4 separate regions of the Homo sapiens genome follow, and all the other regions are linked to region 3. The links come from fine-mapping of genetic effects on gene expression. A gene starts in region 3. Each other region holds a variant in brackets. All regions are shown on one strand. Distances are from middle to middle.

Region 1 (8,103 bases), 45 kb after region 3:
GAGGTGGCAGTGAGCCTAGACTGCGCCATTTCACTCCAGCCTGGGCCACAGAGCAAGACTCCGTCTCAAAAAAAAAAAAAAAAAAATGTTTGTAGAGACAGGGTCTTGCTATGTTGCTCAGGCTGGTCTTGAACTACTGAGCTCAAGAGATCCTCCCGCCTTGGCTTCCCAAAGTGCTGGGATTACAGGCATGAGCCACGGTGCCCAGCCTGTTCCAGCCTTTTTGTTAAAACTACAGAGTGAATGGCCCCAGAGGGGAAGTTTCATTTCTGGGTCTCTTTTCAGCCCCTTTCTGCCTTCCCCCCACAAACTCAGACAAATGGACATGGCCTGGAAAACCCAGTGTGGCTGCTGAGCTCCCCGCGGGTGGGAAGAGGATCAAAAACAAAGTCTGATCATCCCATAGCCTTGCTGGCCAAGACCAAGAACCGAGCTGGGCAACAGTGAGCTGCAGGCTTCGCTTTCCCTGCGGGCTCCATGCCCCGGCTGCACGGGGAGGTGTTCTAGGCGGCCGCCGGCCAGAGCCTTTGAGAGTGGAACCTTCCTCGTGTTCAATTAGAGGACCCAGACTTGGGAACAGAGCCGTAACCACACTTCCAGCCTTGGACACAGGAACAAACGAAAAATAATTTTTCTGTGTCAGACACCTGAATCCTGAGGGCATGTCAGGATCTATTTTCAGATATCTACATTCTGTCTTCATCCAACACCTTTGCTGTGAGGTCAACTTGAATATTCCACTGTGACTCTTCCCCAACCCAGTCTCCTCCCTCCCAGAGGCAGAGCCAAATGGCCCGAGAGTGTGACAAGTTGAGACCTGTAGGACAGACAGCAGGTTGCCTGCCCAACAAGCGATTCTGCCCTTCTTTCTTTCCAAAATAACCCTGATTCCATCTGGGCAGCAAATTCCTCAGATAAAAGACTTTATGATTCTCTATCTCTTGCAGACAGAATGGTCACAGAGAGGTATGTAGAAGCCCTTGGATGAAGCTTCCAGGAAAGATCTTAAAGGACCAACTCAGCTAGAAGACGCGTCCTTTCGCCCTTCATCCTCTCTCTCTGCCTGCCTAAAACATGACACGATGGCTGGCACTGTAGCAGCTATCTTGAATCATGAGGCTTCTTTAAAGATAGAAGGTCTGTGCTAAGGATGACGAAGAAGAGTGACAGAAGAAAGCTGGGTGCCTGATGACTTTGTGGAGCCACCCATTCCAGCCGAGACCACCAGCCTCTGAAATTCTTCTACCTGAGAGAAAATAAACCACCACCTCATTGGAACCACAGCTACCTGGATTTTCTCTTCTCTGCAGACAAATCCTAAGGCCAAGTGAGGCCAAAGCCATGTGGCCCTCGAGGCTGGCAGGATTAAGGGGCAGTCACTGTCTCACTTGGAGAATTAGGATACACCCTTTGGGACATGCTTTTGACCCTAGACCCTCCCAGCAGTCCAGTCTCCCAGGCTGTCCTGGAGAAAGGTTGGGAGGAGCCACCAAACCCTTATTTGCACCTTCTTTGCAAAACAGCTGGAAGCACGGGTGTGTGGAGAAGGAACGAGCACTGCCATTGGACGCTGATGATTGGCAGCCAAGGCTCAATGAGGGAAAATCCCATAGGAAGTAAAGAAGCAGAGAGGAGAAGCCAGGCTGGGGTGGCACAGGTCGTGCAGGGCCAAGTCACTTACAGGTGCCCGCGTGGTACTTGAGGGCGCTCACGTTGCGTCTGTGGGCCGTGAACGTGCGCACACACTCCCCTGTGTCTGCCAGCCAGCACTTGACGGTCCTGTCCGCGCTGCCAGAGTACACGAGTCGGTTCACCAGCTGCGAGGAGGAGCAGGGAAGGTCGGCAGCTGGGGCAGCTCTGAAGCCCCCCAGACCTCTCCCTCTATAAGGGGGGAAGGGGCATGTGCAGGTCTCAGTGGTGAAACCATGGGTGAGCCTCGAATGGCCCCGCCACCGGCCCCACCAGACTGCCCACTTCAGCACCCAAAAGCAGGCGGCTGCTCCTGCCCCATGGGGCAGCCAGTGCTCCAACAGGGCTGGCCGCCCAGCCCCACACTGCCCTGGGCCAGTCCCTGGCTCTCTGCCCCTCAGCTGCTTCCCCTGAGGATTAGGATGTGGACAGCCCCTTCCTCGAGGGTGTGTGTGGGGTACAGGCACTTAACTGCTCGCTCCTGCTGGCTGAGGAGAGGGCTTCCAGAGAAGGGCTTTCACATGGGGCTTTTGCTTCAGACAGGACAGAGAAAGCCCTGAGCGAGGGTGTGAGGCAGACTTCTGCCAAGACTGGAGCTGACAGCCGGGGACTGTCACGGGGTCACTGCTCCCCCTGCTCATGGGGCTCACAGTGAGAAGAGGGCCCGGGAGACAGTCTCACCCAGCCATGTGATGCTGCTGTCTCGCAGGAGGTACGGAGAGGGCCCAGGAGACAAGGGAAGAGGCCCTCGCCAAGATGGACGGGAGTAGCGGCCCCAGGGAAGTGCGGAGACTATTAAAATAATTCTGTAAATTCCCCTAGACTAAACACCACCCAGCCAAGAGCACTCCCAGCCAGCACCTCTGGTCAGCAGTCACGGACGAGAAGGCCAGGGCGGGCAGGCGGGCTCCACAGCTGCAGTGACCTGGCGCGATGGCACAGGAGACAGGCGCAGGCTTCATGCCCCAGAGAGGCCTCCTGCCACTACTGCTAGGGCCCAGGAACCAGGAGTCAGAAGCGGGTCAGGCACACAGGGCATTTCTCCTGTGGTCGGCAGGCAGTGGGCCCACCGGCAGGCAGTCAGTTCACGCTGGCCACTGGCATCCCGAACACGTCCCTCCTAACCTTCCCCTCACGACCACGCTCTGGGCCACTTTCCACTGCCGGTTCCCCATATTATCTCCCTGTTCAAATCCCAGAGGACAGAGCTTCCACGACCCGGGCCACAGCCCAGGTCAAAGGAGTTAACTGGCCTTGGGCCAATCACTGTGCCCAGAGAAGGCAGTGGAACCACGAGGAGCACAATGTGGCCTCTGGGAGGCAGAGGCTGCAGGTGCTTCCTGTGGACAGTCACCTGCCCTCTCTCAGGCCCTGCCCTGAAGTCCTGCTGGGGTTACGGTGGGCCCCAGCCCAGGCAGCCTCCCTAACTGGATGGTCCCCTCCCCAAGGACAGGGATACTGCCTACCTGCCCGTGTCAGCTTTGGCAGGGTTCCAGAACATTCCTGCACTCAGACCTCAGCCATCTGCACCACCCAGGAGCACAGTTCCTGCCAGTAATGCGGGCACCAGCAGGAAGGACAAATGGACCTTCCTGAGCCTGCCGGGCACACAGTCAGCTGCTTACAGTCTTCAACAGCCCCTCTGCTTCCTGAGAAAGACCACCCCTCCTGCCTCAGGCTCGGAGGCCCTGCAGGGCCCAGCTTCCCTGGCCCTATATCCTGGTTTCCACTCCACACACCTGTGTCCACACTGCTGCCCCAGGACCTCTGGGCACGTGCCTTCCTCCCAGGTTTCCTACAAGTCCTCCCTGCCCAGAAAGCCCTTGTACTGTGATCCTCCCTTTTCCTTCATCGGCAAGTGGAAGCCCAGGATCCTTCTTCGCACCGCCCCCAGGGCACTGTGTCTGTGTCCCGGAGGCTGGGCTGACCACCACCAGCGCAGCGTTTCCTGGCCATCTCCCCAACACATGGTCAGCTCCAGAGCCAGCCAGGCTCCCTGTGCTTGCGTCCCAGACAGTCACAGAGCCTCTCAGGCTCTAATAAGAGGAGTGGGCAAGGGTGGAATGTTTGAGACTGAGACCTCCAAGGACTGGCCAGCTTTGCAGCCCCACACCTCTGTGCTGCTCAGCCCCTGCACCAAGGAGGCTTCCTGGGTGACCAGGGCAGGAGGCTTGCTGGGTGACCAGGGCAGGAGAGGACAAAGGGAAGCCCCTCCTGTTCCCTGGCAGCCGGCCCTCACCACACAGGGCCTGTGAGCACTGTGCTTAGCCCTCCCAGTAGCACCCTGCCGAACATGAGCCAGAGCCACACAGGCCGAGGGGGCGCTCCCAGCCCCAGGGTCCTCAGCCTGTGGAGGCCTTGCTGTTCCCTCTAGCTGGTTTCCTGACAGGACAGGGAGAGCGGGGTGGCCCAGGGAGGCCTGAGCCAAGGGGGAAGGCAGGATGATCCTGAGGGCTCCTCGCAGCCACGGCGGCTCTGAGGAGTCTCCCAGCGATGAGATCCAACCAAGCAGAAGCAGGAGAGGCACCGGCCCGGGGCTCCGCCGCTGAGGGCACAGATGCGGGCCTCCACCTCCCCGGGCTCCAAGGGAGCCCCGCAGGGGTGGGAG[A/G]AGGCTGCAGAGGGCCTGGCAGGCTCCAGAGCAGCAGACCCTCCAAGATACTCCTCCCAAGCAAGAGTGTCGGGGGACGCACCACCTGCCTGGTGACAGCTGTGGTGGTCACAGGCACGGGGCTTACAGATGCACAGTCTTGGGTTCAAATCCTGCCTCCACCCCTCAGCAGATGTGAGACGTGGCCAAGTTACTCATCTTCTCCAAGCTTCCACTGTCTCATGTGCAACGTGAGAAACAAGGACCTCCTGCTAAGAACGAGGCCACAAGGGCTGATGCACTGCTGTGCGCCACACGCAGCCCAGGGCCTGAACATGGTAACCCCCGCCCATCCCCAAAACGCAGGTGCAATCTCTGCCCGCCGGCTCCTCAGGGTTGGGTGAGACTCATGAACTGGTACGACAGGGCTTTTGCAGCCAGAGACTGCCCCACGACATCCTTGCTGTGGTCCCCACCACCTCGGGCTCCCAGATCCTGTAGGTCTTTCTTTTCTCTGGCTGGATTTGAAATGCTTCGTTTCTTTAAAATCACAATGTTGCTATCTGATTTCAAAACTGGGTGCATAGGTGTCTGTTTTAGTTATTTTTTACAATTTACATTTGAAATGTTTTATAACTAAAATGTTTAAAACATCTCTGTAAAACCATGAAGGGACAGGGCAGAGACTCTATCTCTCCTCCTTCACAAGGACCCCAGGTCAAGCCCAGAACCTGGGCGACCCCTCAAAGAGCAGGGGAGAGGGCTGCCCTGCAGCGCAGGGCCACCACAGACAGGGTGCCCCCTGGCTTTTTGACCTTGGGTTTGTCGCTTAGAAGCAGGTCCTCACACCATCTCTGGCCCGACCCTCTCCAAAGGAGGCCTGTGTGCTCCTGGCTCTGTCCCCACCTGGCTTCTGGGACCCCTGAGATCGGTGGCTCAGCCCTGCATGCAGTCCTGTAAAAGGCGAGGGAGGCAGAGGCCCCTCTGGGCACGGTGGTTTCTCAGGACCTCACCTCTGCTTTTGGCCAACTTGGAGCAGGCTGCAGGCTTCAGGGAAGCAGGGAGGATGCTTTGTGGCCACCTGGTCCCCAGGCTGACGGTCGGAGGCGGGGTATATGAAGCTATGGTCTGAGTGTCGGAACCCCCCAAATTCATGCTGGAACTTAACCCCCACTGTGATAGCATTAGGAAGTAAAGTGGTTATGAGGGCCCGCCTCATAAATGAGATGAGTTCCCTTTTATAAAAGGGCTTAAGGGAGCCTGTTTGTCCCTTCATCCAAGACGAAGGACGTGGCAAGAGCAGCAGCCACCAGACACAGAACGTGCTGGCGCCTAGACCTTGGATTTCCCAGCCTCTGGAACAGTGAGAAATACATTTCTATTATTTATAAATTACCCAGTCAAAGGTATTCTGCACCTTTTTTTCTTTTCTTTCCTTTTTTTTTTTTTTTTTGTTTGAGATGAGGTTTCTCCATGTTGCCTAGGCTGGTCTGGGAACCCTGGCCTCAAGTGATCCGTCCACCTCAGCCTCCCAAAGTGCTGGGATAACAGGCGTGAGCCACCGTGCCCGGCCCTCCAGTCTAAGGTATTTTGTTACAGGAGCAGCAATGGACCAGGACTCTGCGAAACTGCACGGTCTCCTCTTTTCCTCCCCAGCCTCTGGAAAGGCTGCCCACGGGCTTATCTCCATAAATCAAAGAAGCCTGACCTGTGTGATGTGAGTGGTGCAGACACCACAGCTCAAACGCACCATCGCCGGGCGGCTCACTCAGGGTCCCAGCAGACGCCCCACACTTGGCCCACCAGGAAACCTCAGCCACTCTCTCCCTTGGCTCTTGACTTGCAAGCACACACGCTTCTTCGGCAAAACGATTTCAGAGGCGACACAATGGGGCTCGCAAAGCCACTGTGGGGGCCCAGGACTCTTAAGGGCACCTGGGAAGGAGTCTGCCCGCTCCGCCCTGCACAGGGCAGGGGCTGTGTGAAGTCCTTTTGAAGAGCTTGCTTCCTGGTCTCAGGTGCACCCACCAGGCCTGTACGCATAGGAGAAGGACGCCTGGAAGTGAGCATGAGGCCCTCTCTCATTTCGAGGAAGGGGAAGGAGATGAGGTGTCATAGACCACGGGTCAGTGACCCCGACTGCATGCCGAGAGCAGAGAAAAGCAACAAGCAGGTCTCTGCTTCAATCTTAGATAGCAATGGTGCCGCCTGCCTCACAGGGTTTCTGGGTTGGGGTGGAGAAGCCACACAGTCCTGTGTGTGGGTGCCATGTTCCTGAGAGCAGTTTGTGGATGGGGGTGCCGGTGAGCCAGGGGCTGAATGCACAATCTCCAGCCCAGCAGAGCACTGAGGCAGAGTGAGGGCCCCAGGCAGGCCATGAGGCAGGGGCCCCAAAAGGATCCAAATGCAAGAGAGCGTGGGGTGTAATGGCCAGCCCTGGTGCCACGAACCAAGGGACAGTCAGAGCTCGGGGAGACGGAGCACTCGCAGGGCCAGGGCTGCGGAGCAGGGGAGGAGCTGGAGGGGAGGAGATGAAAAGTCCCTGGTTCAGCCCTCAACGACAGAGCTCTCCCCGTGAAAACAGACCAAGCCCAGAGCTCACTGCACACCCCCCACATCAGGACCCCATCTGGCCACGCCAGGGGCAGCCATCGTGTGTCCCCACTTGGCAGATTGTGAAAAAGGAGTCCCCCCAACCCCCACAGTCAGGAAGCCTCCGGAAGTTGCACAGCGTCCTGACGCTGTGGGCAGAGGGGATGGTACGGCGCCCACCTCCCATCCCTTTCCCTCTACACTCGCCTTAAGAATCATTTCACTTTGGCAGTTCCTCAAAAAGCTGAACAGAGAATTACCAAGTCATCCGCAGTCCCACTGGCAGGCATATACCCGAGAACTGAAGGCAGGATGCACCCAGATCCCGTCCACCCGTTCACAACAGCTGAAAGGTGAAAGCAACCCGTGTGTCTATCAACAGGTGACGGATAAGCGCAATGTGGTATCCACATACCAGGGAATATTTATCAGTCACGGAAAAAGGAGGGAATCTCATCACACACCACAACACAGACGAACCCTGAAGATCTTATGCTCATGAAATAAGCCAGACAGGAAAGGACAGATCCTGCACGACTCCACTCATGTGAGGACCCAGAGTCATCAAATTCAGAGACACAAAGCAGAAGGGCGGGTGCCCGGGGCATGGAAGAGCAGCGGGGAGTCAGTGTTTAATGGGGACAGAGTTCTGATTTGGGCTGATGGAAAAGTCTGGAAATCATGGTATGATGCTTGCACAACACTGAACGTGCTTCACGCCCTGAGTAAATGCTGAAAATGGTTTAAAGGGAGGCCTCAGCTGATCCTGTGGGTCCCCCTCCTGTGCTTCCTGGACCCGAGAGGGCCAATCAGGCCCTTCTAGAAAGGCAGATCGTGAGCGGCACTTCCAGCCCATCTGATGAAGGCTGTGGCGGCGATGGCCCTCGGTCAGAGAAGCCACAGAAGGCAGGAGGGAGAACTGACATAGCCACCTGCGGGGGCGGGGCCCAGCGAGGGCTAGGGGACGCCATACCCAGAAGTCCTGCTTCCCGGATCTGCTCATGAGGCTCCTGCCCTGGCTCCCTGCCCCTGAATCTCTGTCAGGAAGCCCCCTCTGCGTTTAGGACAGTGTGAGAAATGTCCCATAGCCCTAATCAAACCTGGCTTGTAAGGCAGCAGCCTTCTAACCCCTGCAAAACTCCAATTTCCTGAGTGGTGTCGGGTGAAAGAAATCATATACAAGGGAAGAGAAAGGCAAGATGGTCCCTTCTGTGGGTCGCATGGCCCCCCACACG
Region 2 (8,103 bases), 32 kb after region 3:
AGTAAGAATTTATTATTTTTATTTTTATTTATTTTTTCCTTTAATTTTATTTTATTATTATTATACTTTTAAGTTTTAGGGTACATGTGCACAATGTGCAGGTTAGTTACATATGTATACATGTGCCATGCTGGTGCGCTGCACCCATTAACTCGTCATTTAGCATTAGGTATATCTCCTAAAGCTATCCCTCCCCCCTCCCCCCACCCCACAACAGTCCCCAGAGTGTGATGTCCCCCTTCCTGTGTCCACGTGTTCTCATTGTTCAATTCCCACCTGTGAGTGAGAATATGCGGTGTTTGGTTTTTTGTTCTTGCGATAGTTTACTGAGAATGAAGTAAGATTTTATTAGCATCTGGAAAGCTAGTGTTTTAAAATGAGATCATTTGGAAAACAGTTCTCATCACTGTATAAGACTATAGTTCATAAAACATTGTCACACTCATGTCATTCACTTCTGCCTGTGACCAGCCGAGAGGCCACAGGACAGGTACTTCTCATCTTACACATGGGAAGAGCTGTTGCTCAGAGGTGGTCTTTTAAAGTATAGTGGAGTCATATCACTTGTACATTTCTGAAGTTAAAAGCCCTTGGAGAAAATGCAAATAAAAAAACCAGTGTATATAGTGCAGTTGATCCTTCTCCCTCTTCCACCCAACAGATGTTGTTAGTTACGATGCCTTTGGCTGAAAGCAACAACAACAACAAAAAACCCAAAATGGCCTAAACATCAAAACAAGGGATGTGGTGGGATTTATTGGCCGTTTACTTGTAAAAAGTCCAGAAGTAGGATAGGTCTCAGGGTTAGGTGATTCATTCAGTGGCTTACTGATGTCACTGAGGACCTGAGGTCTGTCTTTTACCCCCACCCCCCACCCCATGTCATCAGTGTCATCCAGTCACAACAAGGGCCATAATCTGTGTCCCAGAATCCTCAGGGAAAATCCTGAGCTTCTTGTGATTGGGCAGCCTTGAACCTGTCACTGAGGCTGGAGGAACGCCAAGACTGGCTCAGGCCTGTGGCAAGAGATAGAGGGTTGCCACCTTAGCCCATTCAGGGGCCACCTGGGGAGCTGGAGCAGCCTCCCACACCTCAGGGAGGGGTAGAATGGGTGCTGGAAAGACAAAAACAATGTCCCACAGAAAGTGAGCTCCTATCGGAGCTTTAGATGAGCAAGAGAAATCTGCTGCCCTCGGAGTTCCAACGTTCTAGGTATGAGCATCTGACTGAGCTGAATGTAAAACAATTCGTTCATGTTTTTGTTTGAGACAGAGCCTTGCTCTCTTGTCCAGGCTGGAGGGCAGTGGCGTGATTATGGCTCACTGCAACCTTGATCTCCCGGGCTCCAATGATCCTCCTGCCAAGAGCTCTCGGCTGATTTTTATTTTTTTGTAGAAATGGGGTCTCACCATGTTGCCCAGGCCAGTCTCAAAACTCCTGGGTTCAAGCAGTCCTCCCACCTTGGCCTCCCAAGGTGCTGGGATTACAGGTGTGAGCCACTGCACCCAGCCTTTAATACATAATTATTAAAAGTTTATATTTTTTGTGCAATATGGCCCTGAGTACAGACCAGTTTCTCATCTGAGAAAAGCAACAGCTGTAGAAACGGAGCTCACAGATCATGCTTCGGCATGGCCAGGCCGTGAGACGTAGCCTTCCTAAGAGGCCATCCCAGCTTGTTGTGACCATACAGTGCCTCTCTCTTGAGATCTGATTCTACTTAACTGTAGCCACTTCAGTGCAGTACTCACTGTCATTGATTTGATCTACTTTATCTTTCTAACTCATCTTAGTATAAAGAGAAATTTCAGAAAATAATGTTCTCACATGTGTTTACATGATTAAAAGGAAACAGACTAAGACATTTGTAATGAAAGGAAGTATTCTTCGAAGCTCCCAGTTGGTGTGAGGTCTGTGTTAGGTAATGCCCAGGTCCGCTGGCTGGCAGCGTCCTTCTCTGTGCTTGGATGTTAGGTGCGCTTCTTAGCCTTTTGGAATATAAATGGAAGAAACTGTATTGAAAGCAGAGGATGGGGCCAGTAAAGGCATTTTACATGGAGTATGTGTAAATAAAAGTGCAAATGTGAGTGGTATGAAAGACTCCTGCTGGCATGTGTGGTTGGGGTGGTGTGGCAGGATAAGGTCAGTTTCGAAGCATTGTTGGGGCCAGGGAGTGGGGGCCCTGAGTAGCAGAATAAGGAGCTGGTGCCTCAGTGTGGGGAGGTGGTCAGGAGCTGCTGCGGGCTTTCAGGTAGGTGACTGGAATGACGGAGCCTGCTGCCCTGTGCAGCGGGGCTGGAGCTGGGGGAGACTGGCCACTGAGAGGTAGAGCACGTAATGGGGGCATGAGACAGGCCTGGTGCAGCTGAAGGGGAAGCAAAGGGAGCTGGCGCTGTGGGCACTCCAGGGCCACACCAGGAGGTTCTCCTGTGATAGAGACAGGCCATGAGTCTACAGATGTCTTCATCCCTGGAGATGTTTCCAGCAGCCACTCTGTTCTGCCTGCTCCTACTGTGGGGCCTGTGGAGTCTGGTTCCACAATGATGATGCTTTTGTTTTCCTAAGAGATGAGGCCGCTTTCCTGCTGTGGGGAAAATGCAGGGAGGCGCCTGTTGCCTGGGCTGGGCAGGAGGCAGGATCAGGTCTCTGGAAGGAAGGAGTCTGTTTTCTCCCCCGTCCTCGCTGCTGCTGATGGTGGGGCTGGTCTCCCTGGGAGAATGTAGCAAGTCACTTAACTTTGTTGAAAGCTTTCTGTCTCCTTGTTGGGAAAATAATGAGGTTGGATTAAATTCCTGGTTTTCAAACTTGCTTTGTTGTTGTTGTTTTTAAGCAGCAAAATCCCCTTTTTAAATGACATTTTTATGGGGATACTAGTTTACAAAATAAATTGGGAACTCTCCTGATTGGCCCTGGGTGGGAGAGGTGAAGAGACTAGAACCCTCTGCAGCCGTCCTGCGCTCCTGCAGCAATAGCAGGCAACTCTGAGAAACAGGGTTGAGAACCAAGAGGTTAGATGACCTTTGTCTCTGGGCACTCTGTGGGTTCCGAATGGAATGACAGGCCTCAGAAGGCCCTGGAGTCCTTGCTCCCCAGGCTGTGGGGGGCGGGTCACCAGCTTTGGCATTGCCCAGGAGCCCCTGATTCCACATCACATTTTAACTTGAATCCCTGGGCGATTCATCGAAGGCTGGAAGGCCTTCCCACCGCGTGCAGAAGCTCTCCTACCCGGTTCCTACCTGGTTCCTAGAAGAGAATCCATGCACCTCACACCCGCGACCTCTGCAGTGGGAGTGCTGGGTTGGCGAGCAGCCCATCCTGATGCCGGATGGTGGATGGCGGGGCTGGCGAGGCACCTCCTTCCTGCCCCACGGGCATCTCACTTCCACTGCCTGCCTCAGAAGCAGCACTTCCACCACCCCTCTGCCTCTGTGGCACCTCTGCCATTTGGCTGGGTGAGGAGAGGTAGAAAGAGGGCCCCCTGTGCTTTGCTTTGGTTTTTTGGCTTTGCCTGGAAATGCGGAGAATCCTGCAGAGCGCAGACTGAGAGGCTGTGAAATCTCAGTCCCTAACTTGGGATGGGACTTTGCTGTTTTCCTAAAGGAACTGGCCCAAATAAGGAAGGAGGAAAAAGAGAAGAAAAGACGCCGCCTCGAGAACATCAGGTTTCTGAAAGGGATGGGCTACTCCACGCACGCGGCCCAGCAGGTACTCCACGCAGCCAGCGGGAACTTGGATGAGGCCCTGAAGGTAGCAGCTCCCTCGGGGCCTCTGGCCTTGTCCCTGAGCAGTGGGTCCTGCCCAGAGCTCCCTCCATGGCTCTCCAGCATCCTCCCGGGCTCACTCCTATGGGCTGCCCCGTCATCCGGATCTGAAGGGCAGGTTTCTCCTGGGCTCCAGCCCAGACACAGGCTGCGTGAGGCCACGTGAGGCCCCATGCTCAGTGCTTGGCCCAGGCCTGGCTCCAAAACGTGGTGCCTGTCCACACCAGCACAGTCCACAGGCCAGGACTTTGTGTAGGGTTTCTGTGTGCAGCAGAGTTTAGTGAAACAGGCAGTTTCCACGGCAGAAAAAAGAGAATGGGAATTCAACTTGTAGTATAATTGTTTGGCATTAAAATTTTAAATGTAAGTATCTAGTTTTATTTATTTAGTCCATCGTACATGTTGGCAAAGGGAGAGCTTTTCAAAGAACCCCTCAGGAGTGACAGCAGGTTGGGATCCAGACAGCAGTGACTTTACCTGGGCCACTTCCTTCCC[T/A]GTGTTGGAGAAGCATATCGAATCCTCAGTAGGGCAGGTGCTGCGCTGCGTCTCAGCAGCTTGGCATGGAACCACCCTCTGCCCTCTCGGCCCCGCAGGTCAGTGAGAGACAAACTCAGAGCACACGTGGTGAGGGGTCCCGAGGGGGTGCACAGGAGGCAGGGGGCTGGCTGTGTGGAGGCAGCAGTCCAGACAGATGCTGGGGCAGCGCGGCGGGCAGGAAGCAGAGTGGTAGGAGCTGGCTTAGGTTGTGCACGTGCTGGGGGCGGGGCTGGGGGGACAGAGATGGGGTTGGAGGGGGTGGGGTGCAGGGCAGGTGTCCTCGTTTGCCCTGCTGAGGCGGGTGTGGGTGCAGCAGGCACGGGGAGTCCACCCTGCCTTTGCCTCTTATCCCTGCCCTGTTCCCCGGAAGGCTCCACAAGTCAGTACTTTTGTAACTATGTACATGTATATTTAACATATACGTTAAATTTTAAATTTTTATTTGAATATCATCTAGTTCGTTTTTTTGTGTGTTGGAGAAATATTAAGAGGTGGGAAATTCTGAATATTCGAAGGGACTGATGGGTCTCAAAATAGATGTGAATTATACGAGTGGCACAAAAATACTTCCAGTCAAAATGGAAGTACTGAGTGTTGGAAAGGAAAGTCTCCACAGGGTCTTTGAAGATTAAGTATTGTGTGATGAAGAAATCAAGGGTCAAAATAACCCTACTACCTGCCTGACATTTTAAGTCTAGAGGGCATGACGCTTTCAAAGATCAATCAGGCAGCCCTGAGCTGCTTGAGACCTTTCTGTCTGTAGCTCTGACAAAACCTGTTTTCTTGGATGCTGCTTCCACCTGCTCTCCATCCCTTCCTGCTCTAACAGAAGGGATCTTTTCCCTGACTAGTCTTGCTCCTCCTTCAAACCCCAGCTGTCCTGGTCTCTGGCTGGAAGCCTTCTGTGAACACCAGCCTGAGTGGGAGCCCCTTTCTCTGCCTCATAGCAGCAGAGGACGGCGGGGTCTGCCTAGCACATGGCAGGGTGCAGCGCCTGTCTGAATGTGTGAAGAGTTCTTAGTGATGGGTAAAGGGTGTTCCTGTGTGTTTTAGATTCTGCTCAGCAATCCTCAGATGTGGTGGTTAAATGATTCCAATCCTGAAACCGACAACCGTCAAGAAAGTCCTTCCCAGGAAAACATTGACCGAGTGAGTGACAGGCCTTTGTGCCCTCAGCTTGGACAGCCTCGGGTGGGGTTGCTTGGGGTAACCCGGGTGAATCAGGCAGCAGGACTGGGGGAGTCCGTGCTGAAACCTTGGCTCCCAGGCTCCAGGTGTAACCTGCCCACCTCAGAGGCCACCCACGCAGTAACAGAGGGCAGGGGAGGCCTCCTTGGAAAGCAGGAAAACTGGGGAAGTGTCAGGAAGTTCTCTTTAGGTTTGCTGCCTTTGTCTATGCACCACTGTTTGCATCAGCCTCATTTCTCTGCCTGTGACCTAAAAGGATGGCACTGTGACCTGGGAAACCCATCCAGCTTTGTATCCCAAGTGACGGCTCTGTCCACATTTGTGCCCCTACACGCGTTAGCACGCCTGTATGCTGTGGCCACTGACCTCGCGGTGCTCGTGGTGAGGCTGGTGTGGCGCCCTGCTCTCAGCCCGAGGTCACTGCCTGTCCTGAGATGGCTGCTCCCTGACGCACCCGACTTGAGTCTTCCAAGCCCCCTTCCAGGTTGCTCTACGCTCACATTGCACAGAAGCATGACTTGTGCACAAAGGGCCATGGTGCACACGCCGGGAGCTCTTAAACATGAGAGTCGGCTGTCCACTCGTATGGCTGACGGGGGTGGCAGAAGAGGCGCCAGGGGCTGATGCTGTGACCCCTGCGCTCTCCCCTAGTTGGTGTACATGGGTTTTGATGCACTCGTGGCCGAAGCTGCGCTGAGAGTGTTCAGAGGCAACGTCCAGCTGGCCGCCCAGACCCTTGCTCACAACGGAGGAAGCCTGCCTCCCGAGCTGCCGCTGTCGCCAGAAGACTCTTTGTCCCCGCCAGCCACGTCCCCTTCTGACTCCGCAGGTAGGTCTGAGGTCTTTGAGGGCCGCATTGAGAGCAAAGTGTCTTCAGAAGCCAACAGATGTGGCCCTAAGCCACGGCAGATGTGGAGACTGAGGGGGCGTCCCCTGACGTCACCGGGCCGGCCACCTGGACAGTGTGGCCAGCAAGAGGCACAGTCTGAGGTTGACTGTGGTCGTGCAGTGTCCCCAGGACAATCCTCACATAATTCACTTACTCCTGCGGTATTTTATTGTAGGAACCTCTAGTGCCTCAACAGACGAAGACATGGAGACAGAGGCCGTCAATGAGATACTGGAAGACATTCCAGAGCATGAGGAAGACTATCTTGACTCAACTCTGGAAGATGAAGAAATTATTATTGCAGAGTACCTATCCTATGTAGAAAATAGGAAGTCAGCAACAAAGAAAAACTAAATAATGAACAGAAATAGCGCTAATTTTCTGCTTATAAATGCTATCATTATGAAAAGGCTAATGCAGCTCTTTCTGTTCTTACTTTTTATCTGAATTACAAGTCCTCTTTGGGTGTAGGAGGGGGTGGGCAGGGGACAAGTCCAGGAGGGGTCCCAGGGCCTTCATGCGTGGTCTCGGGGAAGAAGCTTCCTCTGGCCTGGCGCAGGCCGTTCCATCTGCCTCCCAGGTCTGCGTCCCTAACCCCTTCCCCAGCTTGGTGTTTTACCCCGAAACAGGAAGGAACAGGGGTCCTGTAGAACAGGGGTCCTGGGGAAGGTGTCCAGGGCAGGGTCCTGGGAAGGGTGTCCCGACCGCTTCCTCTCCAGCTGTGGCTCCATCTGCCCAGCTTGCCTGCCTCCTGCACCCACTGCCCTGACCTTCCTGCTTCCCACGCTGCCATCTCTGCCAGGGTGCCACATGGGTTCCTGTGCCACCCTTTCCCCGCCCCTCAAATCGTCCTTTAAGTCTTCCTTCCAAGTGCTGTGGGGCATAACGATGAGGCGCTGGCCTTGGGGGCCACACCAGGTCGCAGCAAATGGCTTCAGCCTGGGACGCCAGTGTTTTATGCTCTTAGTTCAGTAAAATACGCCCCCGAAATTCAAGATTGAGTGTCAGGCTTTATATATATTCAGCATTCCTCATTACAGAAATCTTCTATTGAATGGGAAAGGTTTAAATGCTAACCAAAGCAATTTATTTTTAATTAATATTTTTAGACTCTGTGCTGTCATACTGAACTCACTGCTAGCTAAGAGACCTATCAGAGATTTAGATATATTTTCTCCAGGTTTTTTGTGGGTTTTCTTTGTTGTTGTTGTTGTTCTAGCCATGTGACAGAGGCTCTTTCTAAAAGTATGTAGTTCGCTGTGTGTCGGCTCCAGCAGTAACCGTCCTCACTGCGCCACGCACTCCTCTGTAGATGTGTGCCCAGTGGGAGTTCCTTCCAGCCCCAGGACCACAGCAGCAGCCAGGTGCCGAGTGGATTGAGTGCCAGGTGCATCCAAGACTTTCCCTCCCTTCCAGAAGGCACTGACTGAAGACAGGATGGATCATGCGGAGCCGGCTGAAATGCTCCAACTTTTTCAAAGTGTGGGTGGTCCAGTTTGGACTGATGGGAATCTTCTTGTCATTCTTTTTAAACGGATGATACCGATGGAAATAAAAGGTGGGAAATATATTCAAAAATTGTCACCCTAATTTTGCATTAATTTACTCAGCCTCCCCAGCTGTAGGTGTTGAAAGTGTCTGGGTGACTAGCTCTTCATTTTGATTGCAGGATGTCTGTTTCCACTGAGTTTTGTGAGGAGATGATGGAAGGATGATCTCAGAAGCAG
Region 3 (8,103 bases):
GTGTATTTTCTTTTAGCACATTAAAGATGCCATTCCATTGTCTTCTGGATTTATTGTTTCTGAAGTCAGCTGACAATCTTAAAAGGCAATGCATCTTTTCCCCGGCACCTTTTTTTTGTTTAATTAAATTAAATTAATTTTTTTTTTTTTGAGATGGAGTCTCAATCTGTTGCCCAGGCTGGAGTGCAATGGTGCAATCTTTGCTCACTGCAACCTGCATCTCCCAGGTTCCAGCGATTCTCCTGCCTCGGCCTTCCAAGTAGCTGGGATGACAGGCGCCCTCCACCACAGCCAGCTAAGTTTTGTATTTTTAGTAGAGACGGGGTTTCATCGTATTCGTCAAACTCATCTCGAACTCCTGACCTCAGGTGATCCACCTGCCTCAGCCTCCCAAAGTGCTGGGATTACTAGCGTGAGCCACCGTACCTGGCCCTGGCACCTTTTAAGATTTTATCTTTTTCCTTGGTTTTCAATGGTTCTACTAGAATGCACTGGGTGTGGCTGATTTTGTATTTATCCTGCTTAGGAGTCATAGAACTTACAGAATTTGTAATTTGATGTCTTTCATCAGTTTTGCGAAACTTGGACTCTTGGTTATTATCTTTTCAAATATTGTTTCTGCCCCTTTCTCTCTTTTTCTAGAAACCTGAATACCTGGTAGAACTTTTCATCATGTCCCATGTGTCTCTAATGCTTGTTTCTGTATTTTCCATTCTTTCCTTCTATGCTTCAGTTTGGATATTTTCTATTGATGTGCCTGCAGTTCACTAATCGTGTCTTTAGTTTTGTCTAACATCCAGAGTTCACAGCCTCATTTATTACACTTTTCACCTCTAGAGTTTTCATTTGATTTATTTTTATAGATTTCAATACTCAGGTGAAAATTTTCATCTTTTTTTCTGTTTTCTTGAAAATGTTCATCAGAGTTATTTTAATCAGGCAACTCCAATATCTGACTCATCTGTGGGTCTGTTTCTATTGTCTTTTTCTTTTTTTATCTAGTAACTTTTTAATGAGATGCCAAATATAGCTTCTAAAAAGTTGTAGAGGCTTCAAATGTTATCATTCTCTCAGGAGGGTTTTTCCCTTTCCTCCACAAAACCAAAGACAGGAGTGGCCAATAACCTTAATCCAATCAGGGACTGCATGGAGTGAAGGCTGGGCTGAGGTTCTGGTAGGGTTCAAGCTACCGTTGCCCTCCAGTTTCCAACTGGGAACATGGTGTAGGCTCTGCAGTAACCCACTTCCACCACCACCCTAGCAGATCTCAGACTCGAATCTTTGTTTTGCAAGTCTATCAAAAACTTCTGCTTTCAGAGGCCTTCCATTTACATTTCAGTTTCTTGCCCCATACAAGCCTTGAATTCAGCAATTGTCCTTGGAATTTCCCCCTACATCGCTGTGTTGGTTTTGTGTCCCCAGCAGTGGCCCTCTGTGGTCTCAAAGTCTAAATTCTCAGCCTCATGCTTGTATCCAGAACTGGCAAAAGCCCTCACACACCAATACAAGCCACTGCAGACATTAGCTCACCCCTTGAAGGTTCCTCATTCTCTGGAATATCAAGTCCCCCCATTCTTGCCTCAGCAGCTTTCACTGCCTTCAAACAGATGTTTTCTGACTTCGCTTTCTGGCTTTTCTAGTTGTTGTTAGTGGGAGCCTTGGTCTACTGCAAGCTGCTCCATCACACCTGAGCGTGGACATTCAATTTCCTGATGGTCTACTACGTAAATGTAAAAGTGAAACTATCTTTGTTACTCATCTCAGAGAAAGCCCTCAGAAAAAAATGTCAGAACAGTTTCTGTTGTCCTTCTACCTTGCTGCAATTGCTACTGAGCAATCAACGGGCTTTTTCCTGATGTGCTAGAAGCCAACACCATGGCACGGGCTTTTGAGAAAAGAAAGGCTTTATTGTGAGTTGACTGTCAAGGAGACATGAGGAAACCCTCAGCTCTGTCTCCTTGAGCTTGGGGCTGGGTTGGGTTTTATAAGCATAGGGTAATGACGCATGATCGGATTAGATTTTGCGATGAGGTGATGCTGGGATGCTCATCTGACTGGACCCTGCCATGGGGTGACACCAGGGCTTGATCTGATTGCATTCTGGATCTCACCATGCAGTGCCCATTTCTTAATTCAGTCCCTGCTTTGATCTGAGCACTCAGGTTCCGCCCCTGGTTGCATGCTTGGTTCACCTGGGCATCCTCAGGTTACGTGCGAAACCTTCCATCTGGGAGTCCATGCAACTGAAAAACAACTCACAACTTGGGTATATAAAAGGCGAATCAGATTGGTCTGGTGCGGTTATACAGTTATTAATATCCCTTTGTCAGAAGTCAAAATTACCACAAATTTAGATTAAAGATCTATTGGTTTTTATTGATTCATGAATCAGGATGGCATCTTCTCTGAAAATTTAGAAACGGTGCTCCAACGAGCTGGGCAGAGGAGGTGGGCTTTATAGGTAGAAAAGGGCTAAAGAAAGCAGCAACAGGGAACGAAAAACGGATTGGTCACTGCAAGGTTACAGGAGTCCCCTCTCGTCCACACACAGGTGGTGTGTCCCAAGACCCACAGTGGATGCCTGAAACCTCGGATAGTACTGCACCCCATTTTACATACACACACATATATATATACTATATATATACACACACTTCATTTTTCCTATACATACGTACATACCTACGATAAAGTTTAATTTATTAGGCACAGTAAGAGATTAACAGCAATAACTGATAATAAAATAGAAGCGTCACTGTTGAGCACAGCCTTGGGAATAGGACCTTGGAAGTAGGCAGAGCTCCCTAGGCCTTGTGGTCCCTAGTGGCCGTGGACAGCATGGGGGAGGAAATTCCCGGGAAGCAGCCTAATTTCACCCCAGGGAAGCCCCTGGTGGGCTTGTGGAGGGCGGGGTGAAAAGCCGCTGGTTTAGGGAAGGGGTCCAGCCTAGGCTGAGGAATGAGATGCGGGTTGGGACGGTCCCGACCCTTCCCCCAGCCTCTTTCAAGGATTCTGGAGAAACAAAGCCAGGATCCATTTCCTCTTGATGGCTGGCAAACTGAGCCCGGGCGGGAAGTCCTGGAAGACTGAGCCTGGGGTGGCGTTGGACACCAACTCCCAGGTCCTCGCCCCACACGGCCACATCCTCGCCCAGCCCCGCCTCCGCTTAGCTCCGCCCCGTCGCGGCTCCGCCCCGCGGTAACCACGCCCACACAACCGTATCCCCGCCCACAGCTGGCTTCGCCTTGGCCCCGCCCACAACCCTCTTTCCAAGCGGCGGCGGCGGCGGCGGCGCGAAGGCGACAGCGGCGGCGGGGGCGGGGCTGGCCTCACCCGGAATGAAAACAAACGGCGGCCGCTGCCGCATCCGGGCACTCTGCTGGTCGCGGCGGGAGTGGCGTGGCGCAGGTGAGGACACGGCGGCCGAGTGTCCTCGACCCCAGCCTCAGCAGCACTGCTTGGCGCCCCGGTTCCCGGTCCGACTGGGCACCTCTCCTGGCCAGGGGTGGAGCGGCCGCGGGGCGGGGGTGAGCAGCCATGCGTGGAGCTGGGCCGGGGCCGGGGCCGGGGCCGGGAGCGGTGGGCCGGGCTTCGGGACGCGCTGGCCGTTCGGGGCCCTTTGGTTTGCCCTGAGTTAGGCAGAGGTGTGGGGTATTTAAAAGAAAATATTGAGTGTATCGGTTTGGGGAGAGAAAGGAATAAATATGTCTATAAAAAATTAGCCAAATGCTATACTTGAATCGTAACACTCCGAGTATACCATTTGGGATTTATTTGCAATCAAAGCCAGATTTTCTTTGCTATTTAATGACAAGACACTTGATTTTCTCGAACCTTGACGACCTGATTCTATCATTCTCACCTCCTTCCCTTTTATTTTTAATCAAGAATCTTTCATTTTCCTAAGAAAAAATGAATGTGTCTTGACTAGATATAGTTGTGTTTCAACTATATATAATGTATACTTGAAAAGGTGTGGCTAAATGTAGCAATGATCGATTCATTACAAAAGTGAAAGTGAAATTTTTAAAGGATCGTTATAACGTTTCACTTTCTGCTTGGACCACGGAGTGATATTAATGAGTTTCGTCTTTTCTTAGTTACAATGTGAAACATTGTATGGCATGCATGAAACTTTTTCAGTTCTCATTTCAGTTAAAATTAAAAACTGACTTATTAAACTTGACTTAAAATATGTCGCCACTTACTCTGTTGTCTATAACTGAAGTTCCTTAAGTTTCAAGACAGTGGTTTAATTTTTTTTTAACATTAAATCTTATTCGGTGTAACCCTGGAGCTCTTGTTTGCTCCCTGGAGTGTCTGACACGCACTGGGTTTGTAACACTCCTTCGTCCTTCTGTCAAGTGGTGGCTTGGATGGCATCTTTTTAAAAATTTTTTATTTGTTTATTTTTTTAGTAGAGACGGGGTTTCACCATGTTGACCAGGCTGGTCTTGAACTCCTGACCTCAGGTGATCCACTGGCCTCGGCCTCCCAAGTGCTGGGATTACAGGTGTGAGCCACCGCGCCCGGCCTTGGATGGCATCTCTGAGTACCGCATCAGCCTTTCAAATTGCTTGGCTCCAGTAACCAGCCTGTGAAATTACTGTCCCCCAGTGGGGAGACAGTAGGGTTGCTGTGATATTTTATTCAGAATTTCTGAAGATTCATGAGTAGTATGTAAAGTAGTTTTTAAAGTTATTTGTGTTTGAAAAGCTAACGCTCTAAGTACTAATATGCTTTGCTGTGATAAGCCGTTTGTCAGTGCTTGAAAAATGGAGGATTCTCCCATGGGCCACCCAGGTTGCACACAGCAGCCTCATTGGCTGTGTTATTCCTTCCTCTCTTTTCTCCTCCCTGTCCTGATTAGCCTAATTCTTGTCCCCGCACTGACATAAAATAGATTTGAACTTTCTTTTAAAAAATATTTGTTTATGAAATACACAAGCTACCAAAGTTTTCAAAGATTTCAAAGTTGTGTGAATTGGGTTTGGGGGGATGTGGAATACTGGCCCTCAATAGAAGAAAGAAATTTATCTTGGTAATATTAACTCATATTTTTTCCACTCTCTAGAACTTGTCTTCATCATTCAGGGGCTAATAACATTTTTCTTTACTTATTGCTTGTCTGATTTGGGAAACCTTAAAGCGCTGTGCTACACCTGCCAGCTGCCTTACATCTCAGCCGCCTCACTCACCTTTGAATTGCTGTGCTAGTATGGGATGAGTAGACAGCTCCATCGCGGTACATACTTCTCTGGGAGAGAGAAGTTACATACCTGGAACAGGCAAGCAGCAAGGGACTCCATGACGGAAGTTCAGAGTCCAGTGTTGTGGGTGGAAGTTGTGCTCGTTAAGATGCTGCCTAATTTTGTGTCTTTGCCTGAGTCATGGTACAAACTCAGGGCCCTAATTTTCTCAGCTGTAAAATGATCCGATCAGTGTTAGATTTGAATAGTAGGGCCAGGCGCGGTGGCTCAGGCCTGTAATCCCAGCACTTTGGGAGGCCGAGGCGGGCGGATCACAAGGTCAGGAGATTGAGACCATCCTGGCCAACACGGTGAAACCCCATCTCTACTAAAAATACAAAAAATCAGCCGGGCGTGGTGGCGGGCGCCTGTAGTCCCAGCTACTGGGGAGGCTGAGGCAGGAGAATGGCGTGAACCCGGGAGGCGGAGCTTGCAGTGAGCCGAGATTGTACCACTGCACTCTAGCCTGGGCGACAGAGTGAGACTCCCTCTCAAAAAAAAAAAAAAAAAAAAAAAAAAAAAAAAAGTAGATGTGCTGTTAGGCTGTTAATCAGAAAATATGCAAAATTTTCCTAGTATTGTAATCTTTTTAATTTAAAAAATTCTGACATAGAAAATATTTATATATTTATTATTATTTTGAGACGGAGTCTCACTCTGTTGCCCAGGCTGGAGTGCAGTGGTGCCATCTCGGCTCACTACAACCTCTGCCTCCTGGATTCAAGCGATTCTCCTGCCTCAGTCTCCCGAGTAGCTGGGATTACAGGTACCTGCCACCACGCCCGGCTAATTGTTCATATATTTTTTTTTTTTTAGTAGAGATAGGGCTTCACCATGTTGACCAGGCTGGTCTCGAACTCCTGACCTCAGCTCCTGAACTCAGCCTCCCAAAGTGCTGGGGTTACAGGCCTGAGCCACCACACCCATCCGAAAATATTTATTATCGATAGTTTACAGTTCAAGCAAGCTTTTCTTTATATTTAACTACCAGGATGGTTGGCCTTTTGTTTTATGTTAAACTAGCCAAAGTATGAGAGAATTTACAAGCTCACGCCTGTAATCCCAGCGTTTTGAGACCAAGGTGGGTGGATCACTTGAGGTCAGGAATTCGAGACCAGCCTGGCCAACATGGCGAAACCCCGTCTCTACTAAAAATATGAAAATTAGCCGGGCGTGGTGGCGCATGCCTGTAATCCCAGTGAGTAGGGAGGCTGATGCAGGGGAATTGCTTGAACCCAGGGGGCGGAGCTTGCAGTGAGCCGAGATCGCACCACTGCACTCCAGCCTGGGCGACAGAGCGAGACTCCGTCTCAAAAAAGAAAAAAAGAAGTTCACGACTCGAGGGATTTATCTTTCTCTTATTTTCTCTTTTCTCTTAGATAAGAGAATAGCAGATTAAGAAATAGAAACATGTAATAATCCTTGCTACATATTAGCAACTTTGAAATACATATTTTATATATGTAATATATATAATTGAACATATATTTCTATATATATTTTTAGAGAAGTCTGGAGCTCATTTAAACCATAGTAATTTATATTTAATGACAGAGGAAGGGAGCTTTGCTTACCCAACAAAGCACCTTAACATGTAGGTAAGTTATTAACATTTTAAAATGCGATGTGGAGTTTTATTAATGTATTGTTTTGCTTTCAGGGATGGCACAAAAGAAATATCTTCAAGCAAAATTGACCCAGTTTTTAAGGGAAGACAGGATTCAACTTTGGAAACCTCCATATACAGATGAAAATAAAAAAGTTGGTTTGGCATTAAAGGTATTTTTCTTTTAAGACATCAATAATTAGCAGCATTATAAATCTCCTTGGTAAATAAGATTCTGAATTGTCAGGCATGACCATATAAACTTTTGGCATAACCAAAAGCATTAGTGGTGAGCGGGTACCCACTTTTTACTAGGAACTGACAACCTTATTTTTGTTCATTAATATTTTATTCACATGAGGATGTTATCTAATTTTTCAGGCATATATTTTTAATACCATCACAGGATTACATAACATTATTTATCTGGAACTCATTTTGACCCATTAGTGGAACAGTATTGGTGCCAGTAAGTAATTGCATTGTGTGTTCAAAGTGACAGTGTCTTGGCTCATTCTCGGTCCTCCTTGCTATCATCATCTGCTGTGAAACAATTGCTCCTTTTTCCCCCAGTTTTTTTGATGCTCTCACTATCAGTGTTCATTTTTCCAAAATAGGTTTTTTCTAACAGTTGTATCTCAGTTTTTCATGGCATCATCAGAAATGATATTGTATGTAAGTGATGTTTCTAGAAACTGAAGTCTGCTTGCTTTTCTAAGCAGAGAAACAGTACTCATTTTTGCCAGAAATCTATCATACTGGAATTTCCTAGCATGTACTTCTCTGCTCTCATTCAGAGTATCCTGAACATGATGTAACATTTATCAGGGACTAAGGATTGTCATGAGGCATTAAATTGCTCTGTGTTGTGACATAATGATGTGCTTGGGAGGTGACAAACTGTATTAGGGTCCTAGTTCTTCTGTTTCTTCTGTTCCAGGCAGGCCTCACTTTTTCTTTGCAACCCACCTTCTGACCTTGCTTCTGAATTTATTGTTACAGTCTCTTGGTTTAGAAACTAGGTGTGGCATAAAGGAAAAATATTTGACCTTTGTCCCTGGTTCCTGGCAGAGCCAAAACTCTTGGGATTTCCTAAGTGGTAAGCATGATAGGAGCAACCTTTGTGCTCATGAGGCTTGGTTGCCCCTAGATAGCTTCAGGATGGGGCTGGTCACCAAAAGTACCAAGCCGTGATTAGACACTTGAAACTTTCCACCCTCCCCTCCAACCTCTGGGAAGGGGAGATTG
Region 4 (8,103 bases), 56 kb after region 3:
TTCCATTGATTCACCAAATCCCTACCACAAGCCCACGGACGGGGCAACTTCATACCATAATCCCTAATCTAAAACCTTGGGACAATGCGTTCGAGGATTTTCTGGCTTACAGACACACTCCTGCATCTGCAGGAAAGGCGTGAGAACCCCCAGGCACCGGGATGTTCGAAGCACACACAGTCACATGTCTCTTCAGGCCAGACTCTGCCACCAGGCGTTTTCGTGCCAAGCTTAAGAAAAAACTTCTCAATTTTTGGAACTTTTTGGATTTAGGAATTAAGAAGGGGCGTAATCCTCCCTGTACATGTGAGGAAACTGAGGCCCACAGAGGCTGGGTGGCTTGTCCAGGGGAGGCAACGGAGACGGGGCAGCAACCCCACGTCCCACACGGCCACACCATTACAGCGCTATGTGCTTCCTCTATCCTGGTTGTCAGCTTATAGCATGATGGGCCACTTCCCAGTCCCCAACCCATGAGGACGGAGCCCAGGAGGCTGCCGGCGTTCACCCTGACAGCACAAAGACAAACCAGGAAAACAGTCAACACCCGCTCCAGGCGCCCTGCAGGCAGGCTCCGCCCCAGCTCTGGCCCAGCATGCAGATTCAGAAGCTGAGTGTTATGGGCTGCATCATGCCCACCCCAGATTCACGTGTCGCAGCCCTACCCCACCCCTGTACCTATGAATGTGGCCTTTTTGAAAGAGGGTCTTTAAAAGAGGCAGTTGAGTTAAAATGAGTTCATAGGGGGGCCCTAATCCAGTATGACTGGTGTCCTTCTAAGAAGAGATTAGGACACACACACACACACACACACACACACACACACACACACACACGAGGACAGGGAGAAGGCAGCATCTGCAGGTTAAGGAGAGGCCTCACGGAAACCAGTACTGCGGACCCCTTATCTTGGATTCCCAGCCCCAGGACCGCAAGGCCTCCGTGGCGCTTGCCAGGCCCCCATCTGCAGCGCTTTGTTATGCAGCCGAATCACAGATACCCAGGGCAGGGCGGCAGTGCAGGGGGTGACCTGGGCTCCCCTGGCTGCTGGGCGGGGACCAGGACAGTCTCACCTCCAGACAGATGACGGAGCCCCGGTGCTCCCGGAACACCCGCAGCTGCTCCCCACTCAGGATGTCCCAGGCACGGATGGTGGCGTCGGTGCTGCCTGTGAAGGCCGTGTGGCCGGGCGTGTCTAGCACTAGGCACAGCACTGCACCCGTGTGGCCCCGCAGCGTCTGGTGGCAGCAGCCGCTGGCCACCTGCCACACCTTGGCTGTGCCATCTGTGCTGCCGGTCACCAGAAGCCCCCCGGCCGCGGCCTCCTCCGCGCAGGGAGTGCTGGGGAGGTCCCACGGGGCAGAGTAGGCTAGGGTCAGCACGCAGTTGCGGTGGCCCCGGAACTCCCGGGACATCTGCCCCTTGTCCACACTCCAGACCCGAGCTGTCCGGTCATAGGAGCTGCTGAAGAGCTGGTTGTTGGCAACCAGGATCCTGGGGGCAAGAGGGAAGGGGTCAGGGATCAGAAGGCACGGGTTCCAGAATCCACACAGCCTCCCGACATGCCATGCTCGGCACTGCAGCTAAAATAACCTCTCCCTGTGTCTGCCCAGCTTGCCACACTCGTCTTCCAAGGTCCAGCTCAAATCGCCCCCACCTCCAGGAAGCTACCCTGACTCCCCTCATGCCCACCCTTCCTTGCCTGCCCCTGGGCATGTACCTGTAGCAGGGACCAAGCTTAGATGCTCCGCTGGGATCCCTCCAGCATCCCCACAGCAGCTCTGCAGGAGCAGCGGGAAGGGGATGGGGGAGGAGGTAGGGGAGCAGCGGGAAGCGGGTGGGGGGGAAGGTAGGGGAGCACGGCCCTCTCAGCTTGCCCGGAGTTGAAAAGCTTCTGGGGATTTAGGGTTTTCAGCCTAAGACTGAGAAAGTCCAGGGCAGAGTGGGACACGCTGGTCACCCTGGGAACAGGGCCGGCTCAAGTGGCTGGGCAGGGCACTTCAGATGAGGGCCCTGAGAAGCTGGAGAGCACTGGGAACTCCCATAGTGCACCCAGGGGTGCTTGTGGGAGGCACAGCCAGGGGTCACGCTACAGCCAGTGGGGGCCTCTGCTGCCAGCTCTCACAGCAATCCCCATGCAGACTGAGGTCACAGCCTCAACAGGGTTCTAGCCACATGGCTGGGAACTGGGGGTTGGGTAGCCAAGAGAGTCCATCCATTCAGTGCAACTGACCAACATGGGAGACCAAGGCCCCCACATTGTATTCACGACTCTTATTTTCATTTTGATGGAAGCCAAGAACTCCCCAGAAAAACACACATTTGTCTTTAGTGCAGAGCTTTGCACAGAACCTCAGAAGGTCTGAGCACACACCCTTGGTAAGAAGCCCTGCACCTCAGGAGAGGAGACCGCCAAGGGGTGCGGCCGTGGCTGCACTGTAACAAGGTGCATCCCTGCCGGGGTGGGACCCTCCTGAATCAGGACCACGGCCGGCCCTGCTGCTCCTCCCGTCCTCCCGCGAAGGGCTTGCTGGCCAGCCTGGCATGGACAGGAGACCCACTCGGGACAAGCCTGCTGCCTCCCGCCTCCACAGGATCCCAACAGCATTCCTCACTTCCCGCAAGCAGCTCAACGACACATGACTCCACTCAAATGCCAACTATCCCTTTCCAACTGGCTTCTTCCCTGAGACCCAGATAGGATGATTGTCACAAAACATGTATTTATTTATTTATTTTGAGACGGAGTCTCACTCTGTCGCCCAGGCTGGAGCGCAGTGGCACGATCTCGGCTCACTGCAACCTCTGCCTCCCAGGTTCAAGCGATTCTCCTGCCTCAGCCTCCCGAGTAGCTGGGATTACGTGTATTTTTAAAGGAAATGATGCCTTGATGCTGCTGCTGCAAAGTGCGGGAGGAAGAGGGTGTAGCGGGAGGAAGGGCATAGCGGGAGGAAGGGCATAGCGGGAGGAAGAGCATAGCGGGAGGAAGAGGGTGTAGTGGGAGGAAGGGCATAGCGGGAGGAAGAGGGTGTAGCGGGAGGAAGAGGGTGTAGCGGGAGGAAGAGGGCGTAGCAGGAGGAAGGGCATAGCGGGAGGAAGGGCATAGCGGGAGGAAGAGGGTGTAGCGGGAGGAAGGGCATAGCGGGAGGAAGGGTGTAGCGGGAGGCCTTGGGGTATGGAGGGGGTGGCTGAGTCCTGCCTGGTGTGAGAAGGCAGGGATGCCAGGCCACTGAACGATCGGTGACCCCAAAGCTCACAGGCCTGACCTGGCTCTGAAAACTCGGGAGGAAGTGAGTTCCTGATTTATGAGGACAGTTACTTAATCATGCAAATATCTACACA[G/A]AGCTATGGGTTTGGAGCTGTGACCGATCCAAAATAGTGTGTGTGTTTGTATATGTTGTGAGCACATGTGAACATGTGTGCATATGTGTATATGTGCATGTGTGTTGTGTGCACAATGTGTGCCTGCATGTACTTTGTGTGTATATGTGTATGTTTTGTTGCTTGTGTAAGTTGTGTGTCTATGTGTGTGCATGTGTGTGTTGTGTGTGCATATGTGTGTGTAAGTTGTGTGTATGGGTGCATATGTATGTTGTGTGTATGTGTGTAAGTTGCATGTGCATGTGTAAGTTGTGTATGAGTGCATATGTATGTTGTGTATGTGTGCACATGTGTATGTGTAAGTTGTGTGTATGGGTGTATATGTATGTTGTGCGTGTGTGCACATGTGTAAGTTGTGTATGAGTGTATGTGTGTGCACATGTGTATGTGTAAGGTGTGTATGTGTATATGTGTGCGCACGTGTGTATGTGTAAGTTTGTGTATGAGTGTGTATGTATGTTGTGTATGCACGTGTATATGTGTAAGTTGTTTGTATGGTGTATGTGTATATGTATGTGTGCGCACGTGTGTATGTGTAAGTTTGTGTATGAGTGTGTATGTATGTTGTGTATGCACGTGTATATGTGTAAGTTGTGTGTATGGTGTATATGTATGTTGTGTGTGTGCGCACATGTGTATGTGTAAGTTGTGTGTGCACATGTGAGAGTAAATCTGGCCGAGCATGATTTCTACCTTTAATGTTCCAGTTTTGCTTTTGAGAAGCATCTGACAGTTGTGGGTTTGGCAGCTGAGGGCCCACTGGTCACTGCAGGCAGGCCTTCTCCCCGCTGAGCCCATTGCAGCCTCTGCCTGACTCACAGGAGGGCGCTCCCCCAGCCCTACTCTCTTCTTTCATGGCAAACTTCTTTCTCAGGGAAGTCAGAGTGCTGGGAAGAGGCCAGTGGAGCTGTGAGCCCTGAGTTCTCACTCTAGCCCCTTCTTTACCACCTTGTGGGCTGCCTGGGCAGGTCTCAGGGCCTCACCTGCTTCAGCTGAGGAAGGCCGGGGCCAGACGGCCACCCTACCTTGTGTCTGCATATACCCCCCATTCACTCTAAAAAGTCCCCGCATCCCTTCAGCCTCCTCCTCAGGGTGTCACCCAGCTCCCCGTCCATCGACTATCGATTATTATTCCTGGCTGCAGCCACCTGCGACTCCAGCGAGCTGGGCTGATGGGTCTCACTGCCTTTCCTGTCCCCCCATGCGCTGGTCCACTGACTGGGGGTTCCTGTCAGAGCTCAACCAACAGCATTCCTCTGGTGGGGTTCATCCTGTCTGGTCTGCGCCCCCAGCCCCACCTTCAGGACCCCCTCGTGCCAGCCTGCGCCAGCCCTGTCTTTACTTGGGTCACCCTCCAGGCAGCGCCCCTCCTCCAGTGCAGCTGCCAGGCCCAGGGGCGCCAGGAGGCCTCCCTCGGGAGTCCGAGGTGACCACCACAAGTGACTCCAACAGTGTCCAACTGATCTGATCAGCAAAGGAATTTCCATTGCTCAGCTCAGACCCAAATTCATTGAGAAAGGAACAATTCCAACCTTCTTGAGAAGGAGGGGCTGGGATATTTTCCACAGCTACAAAGAAAGGAGAGGCTTAAAAATATCCTCAACTCCGTCTTCGGAACAATCCCCCACACTCCTCCTCCTGCAAACCTTTGGTCCACCATCGGGTCTCAATTAAGCCATTTCCTATGGAATTTGTCCCCATCCCTACGAGCTGTAGGCTCTGGTGCTTTTCCCTGCACCCAGCGGGGAGCCACTGTGCCCCCAAGGGGGAAGCATCAGGCTCTGTTCAGTGGATGGGCAGTGCCTCCCTGCCCCACATGCAGCCGCAGGCACTGAGCTCGCTGCCTGTCCTGGGTCCACGTCGCTGGGTGCTACTGACCACCTCCCAGCTGTCCACGTTTTTGCTTCCCCAGAGAGCCAAGGGCCCTCACGTGCAGGGGCCCATATCTCTGACCCCTCAGCCCCACCAGAAGCCTATGTATGGTGAGACTCAGCCCAAGCCCCCAGCCAGGCTGACCTGTTCACGATGGACGTGTGTCCTCGGTACACCTGCAGACACTGCCCGGTCAGCACGTCCCACCTCCTGATGGTGCAGTCGGCGCTGCATGTGAAGGCAGCCTCATCCTCCAGCTGGCAGAAGGTCACATAGCTTTCATGTCCTGCAGATGAGGGACAGGGGAGATGTGAGCGTACTGGGGATGCCAGCTCCTGCTTTTCTTCTGGGAACAATGTTTGAAAAGGGAAGAAAGCAGGATGTAGGGAGTGTTTGAGACAAGCTGGAGTCAATTAGCATTAGTTTTGTTTTGTTTTGTTTTTTTGAGACAGAGTCTCACTCTGTCACAAGGCTGGAGTACAGTGGCGCGATCTGGGCTCACTGCAACCTCTGCCTCCCGGGTTCAAGTGATTCTCCTGCCTCAGCCTCCTGAGTAGCTGAGATTACAGGCGCATACCACTATACCTGGCTAATTCTTTGTATTTTTAGTAGAGATGGGGTTTCGCCATGTTAGTCAGGCTGGTCTCGAACTCCTGACCTCAAGTGATCTGCCTGCCTTGGCCTCCCAAAGTGCTGGAATTACAGGCGTGAGCCACTGCGCCCAGCCCTCAACTCATCCTTCTTAAAGAATGACTTCAGTCTGAGTGATTCTCAGAAAGCACGGGGTACCAGTGAGGCACGACAGATAGTCAGGGAAGTAACCATGTCCTCAGGACGCAGCAACCATGGCGACTGCGCCGTCAACACAATAAGCCCCAGCATTCGCACTGCAGGCAAGCTCATTCAAGCAAAGCTATCTTCAGTAGGGACTTTCCCCTGTAGAGAGCACGTGCACTTTGATTTTTACCGGTCCTCACAGTGACCCTTTGCTCATTACAATAGTAAAAAACACACCCCTGGATGGAGATTTAAGATGCCAGTGAGACATGTGACGTATGAACAGGGATGCACAGCCACTGTGCATGAGCACCCAGAACATGCTTCCCAGCAACCCCCTTGCCCACCTGCTCATGAATAATCAGGTAAGACTCCTAAAAAGGGATCCTCCCTCCAGCCGGTCTTTGCTCTCTCATCCTCACAGGCAGCCTACCCTGACTCCCCTCTTGGGGCGTCCTGCCTATTCTGCACCTAACTTTCAGGGTATTCTTCCTCCTGTGCAATACATTGCTCTATGCTGCATCTCCTTTGCTGTGTGTCTCCTGTTTCAATTCTGTTAAACTAAGAAGACAAGAACTGAGGTTTCACAGCAGCCATCAACAGCAGGAGCAATCCAGGGGCACTCGCCTGCACCCTAAACCCTCTGTTTCCTCAGCTTCCACTCTTGCCTTCCTCCCTCCTCTCCTTCCCTCCTCATTTCTTTATCATCTCCTTTTAGTCTTTTTCAAACCTTTCAGCTTTTGCATTCCACATTTCCTCACCTGGGATGGGGACAATGCCTGCCTCACGGGATGTAGCGCAGACTGAGGACAGAGGCAGCCGCAGAGGGAATGGCACATGTTCGCTATTTTCCTTACACTGGGGAGAGATACTGTGGTAGGCAGAATGACGGCCCCAAGACAGCAGGTCCTAATCCCTGGAACCTGTCAATGTGACCTTACTTGGAAAGGGGTCTTTGTGGATGTGACGAGGTAAAGACTTTGACTGGGGAGATTATCCTAGATTATCCGGGGGGTCCTAAATACAACCGCAAGTGGCCAGGCGCGGTGGCTCACGCCTGTAATTCCAGCACTTTGGGAGGCCGAGGCGGGTGGATCACAAGGTCAGGAGTTCAAGATCAGCCTGGCTAAGATGGTGAAACCCCGTCTCTACTAAAAATACAAAAAATTAGCCGGGCGTGGTGGTGGGCGCCTGTAATCCCAGCTACTCGGGAGGCTGAGGCAGAGAACTGCTTGAACCCGGAAGGCGGAGGCTGCAGTGAGCTGAGGTTGCACCACTGCACTCCAGCCTGGGTGACAGAGCAAAACTCTGCCTCAAAAAAAAAAAAAAAAAAAAAAAATATATATATATATATATATATCTCCACAAATGTCCTTACAAGAGAGAGGCCAGGGAGATGTGATATACTCGGAAGAGGAGGCCGTGAAGGTGAAGGCAGAGATGGATGTGGCCACGAGCGCAGGAATGCCAGCAGCCACTAGGGCTGGAAGAGGCCAGGAACCGACCGTTCCCTGCAGGGTTTAGATGTGGCCCTGCTGACACCCTGCTTTCATCCCAGGGACGCTCATTTCAGCCCTCTGGGTTCCAGCACTGTGAAGAATCAACTTCACTTGTTTCCAGGCACCAAGCATCCTCCTTTGTCACAGCAGCCCCAGGACACTAACATAGACACAGAGACAATGAAACACAGCCTTGCCCTCCAAGGGAGCTCCAGGCCCAGAAGGGAAGACAGTCAAGGGCAGCATGTGGTCAGCAGGGCTCGGCACCCCACTGGCAGCGGCTGGCTGGGGCTCGGGAGAGAAGCCTGAGCACTGGAGACCAGGAAGAGGGTGACTCGGTGCCCGTAGGGAGAACAGCGGCTAGGAAAGCAGGCGTGCAGGGACTGGCTCCATGGGGCACCTCCAGGCCAGAGTCTGAGTGATCGGTAGAGATGACTGATGAGGCCGGGATGTGGCCAGAATGGAGGGCCAAGAGTGGAGGGCCATGCCAGGGTGTCTGGGGTCTCAGCACCTGAGCTACCCCACCAGCTGGTTGGGACTCTATCTCATGGGTGCAGTTAGATAGCTTGACTAT

Alleles and levels. Alleles are on the strand shown, and positions count from the first base shown. SD is a standard deviation of normalised expression in the study named. Not every link is listed here.
As copies of G replace A in region 4, the expression in spleen of the gene that starts at base 3,374 in region 3 goes down (small effect, 0.35 SD a copy in GTEx).

Evidence for each region.
Region 1: its variant is fine-mapped to the expression of NUB1 in whole blood (TOPMed, PIP above 0.99).
Region 2: its variant is fine-mapped to the expression of NUB1 in whole blood (INTERVAL, PIP above 0.99).
Region 4: its variant is fine-mapped to the expression of NUB1 in spleen (GTEx, PIP above 0.99).

The regions. Positions count from the first base shown.
Region 1 is chr7:151,383,407-151,391,509 of GRCh38, forward strand. WDR86 (WD repeat domain 86) reads right to left here. Exons shown (of 6, transcript NM_198285.3): 4 at 1,682-1,817. Among named protein-coding and RNA genes, the nearest start is that of WDR86-AS1, 22 kb to the right of the region's middle. RefSeq lists an enhancer at 3,947-4,609. The variant A/G (reference allele first, on the strand shown) is at 4,298.
Region 2 is chr7:151,370,496-151,378,598 of GRCh38, forward strand. NUB1 (negative regulator of ubiquitin like proteins 1) reads left to right here. Exons shown (of 15, transcript NM_001243351.2): 12 at 3,602-3,748; 13 at 5,353-5,448; 14 at 6,139-6,316; 15 at 6,552-7,954. The coding sequence ends at 6,730. It also overlaps a transcript of WDR86 not described here. Among named protein-coding and RNA genes, the nearest start is that of NUB1, 33 kb to the left of the region's middle. The variant T/A (reference allele first, on the strand shown) is at 4,258.
Region 3 is chr7:151,338,439-151,346,541 of GRCh38, forward strand. NUB1 (negative regulator of ubiquitin like proteins 1) reads left to right here and starts at 3,374. Exons shown (of 15, transcript NM_001243351.2): 1 at 3,374-3,408; 2 at 6,910-7,028. The coding sequence starts at 6,912. RefSeq lists enhancers at 1,646-1,705, 1,836-1,925, 2,995-3,496 and silencers at 3,094-3,293, 3,464-3,643.
Region 4 is chr7:151,394,703-151,402,805 of GRCh38, forward strand. It overlaps WDR86 (WD repeat domain 86), which reads right to left. Exons shown (of 6, transcript NM_198285.3): 2 at 5,398-5,539; 3 at 1,074-1,494. Among named protein-coding and RNA genes, the nearest start is that of WDR86-AS1, 10 kb to the right of the region's middle. The variant G/A (reference allele first, on the strand shown) is at 3,343.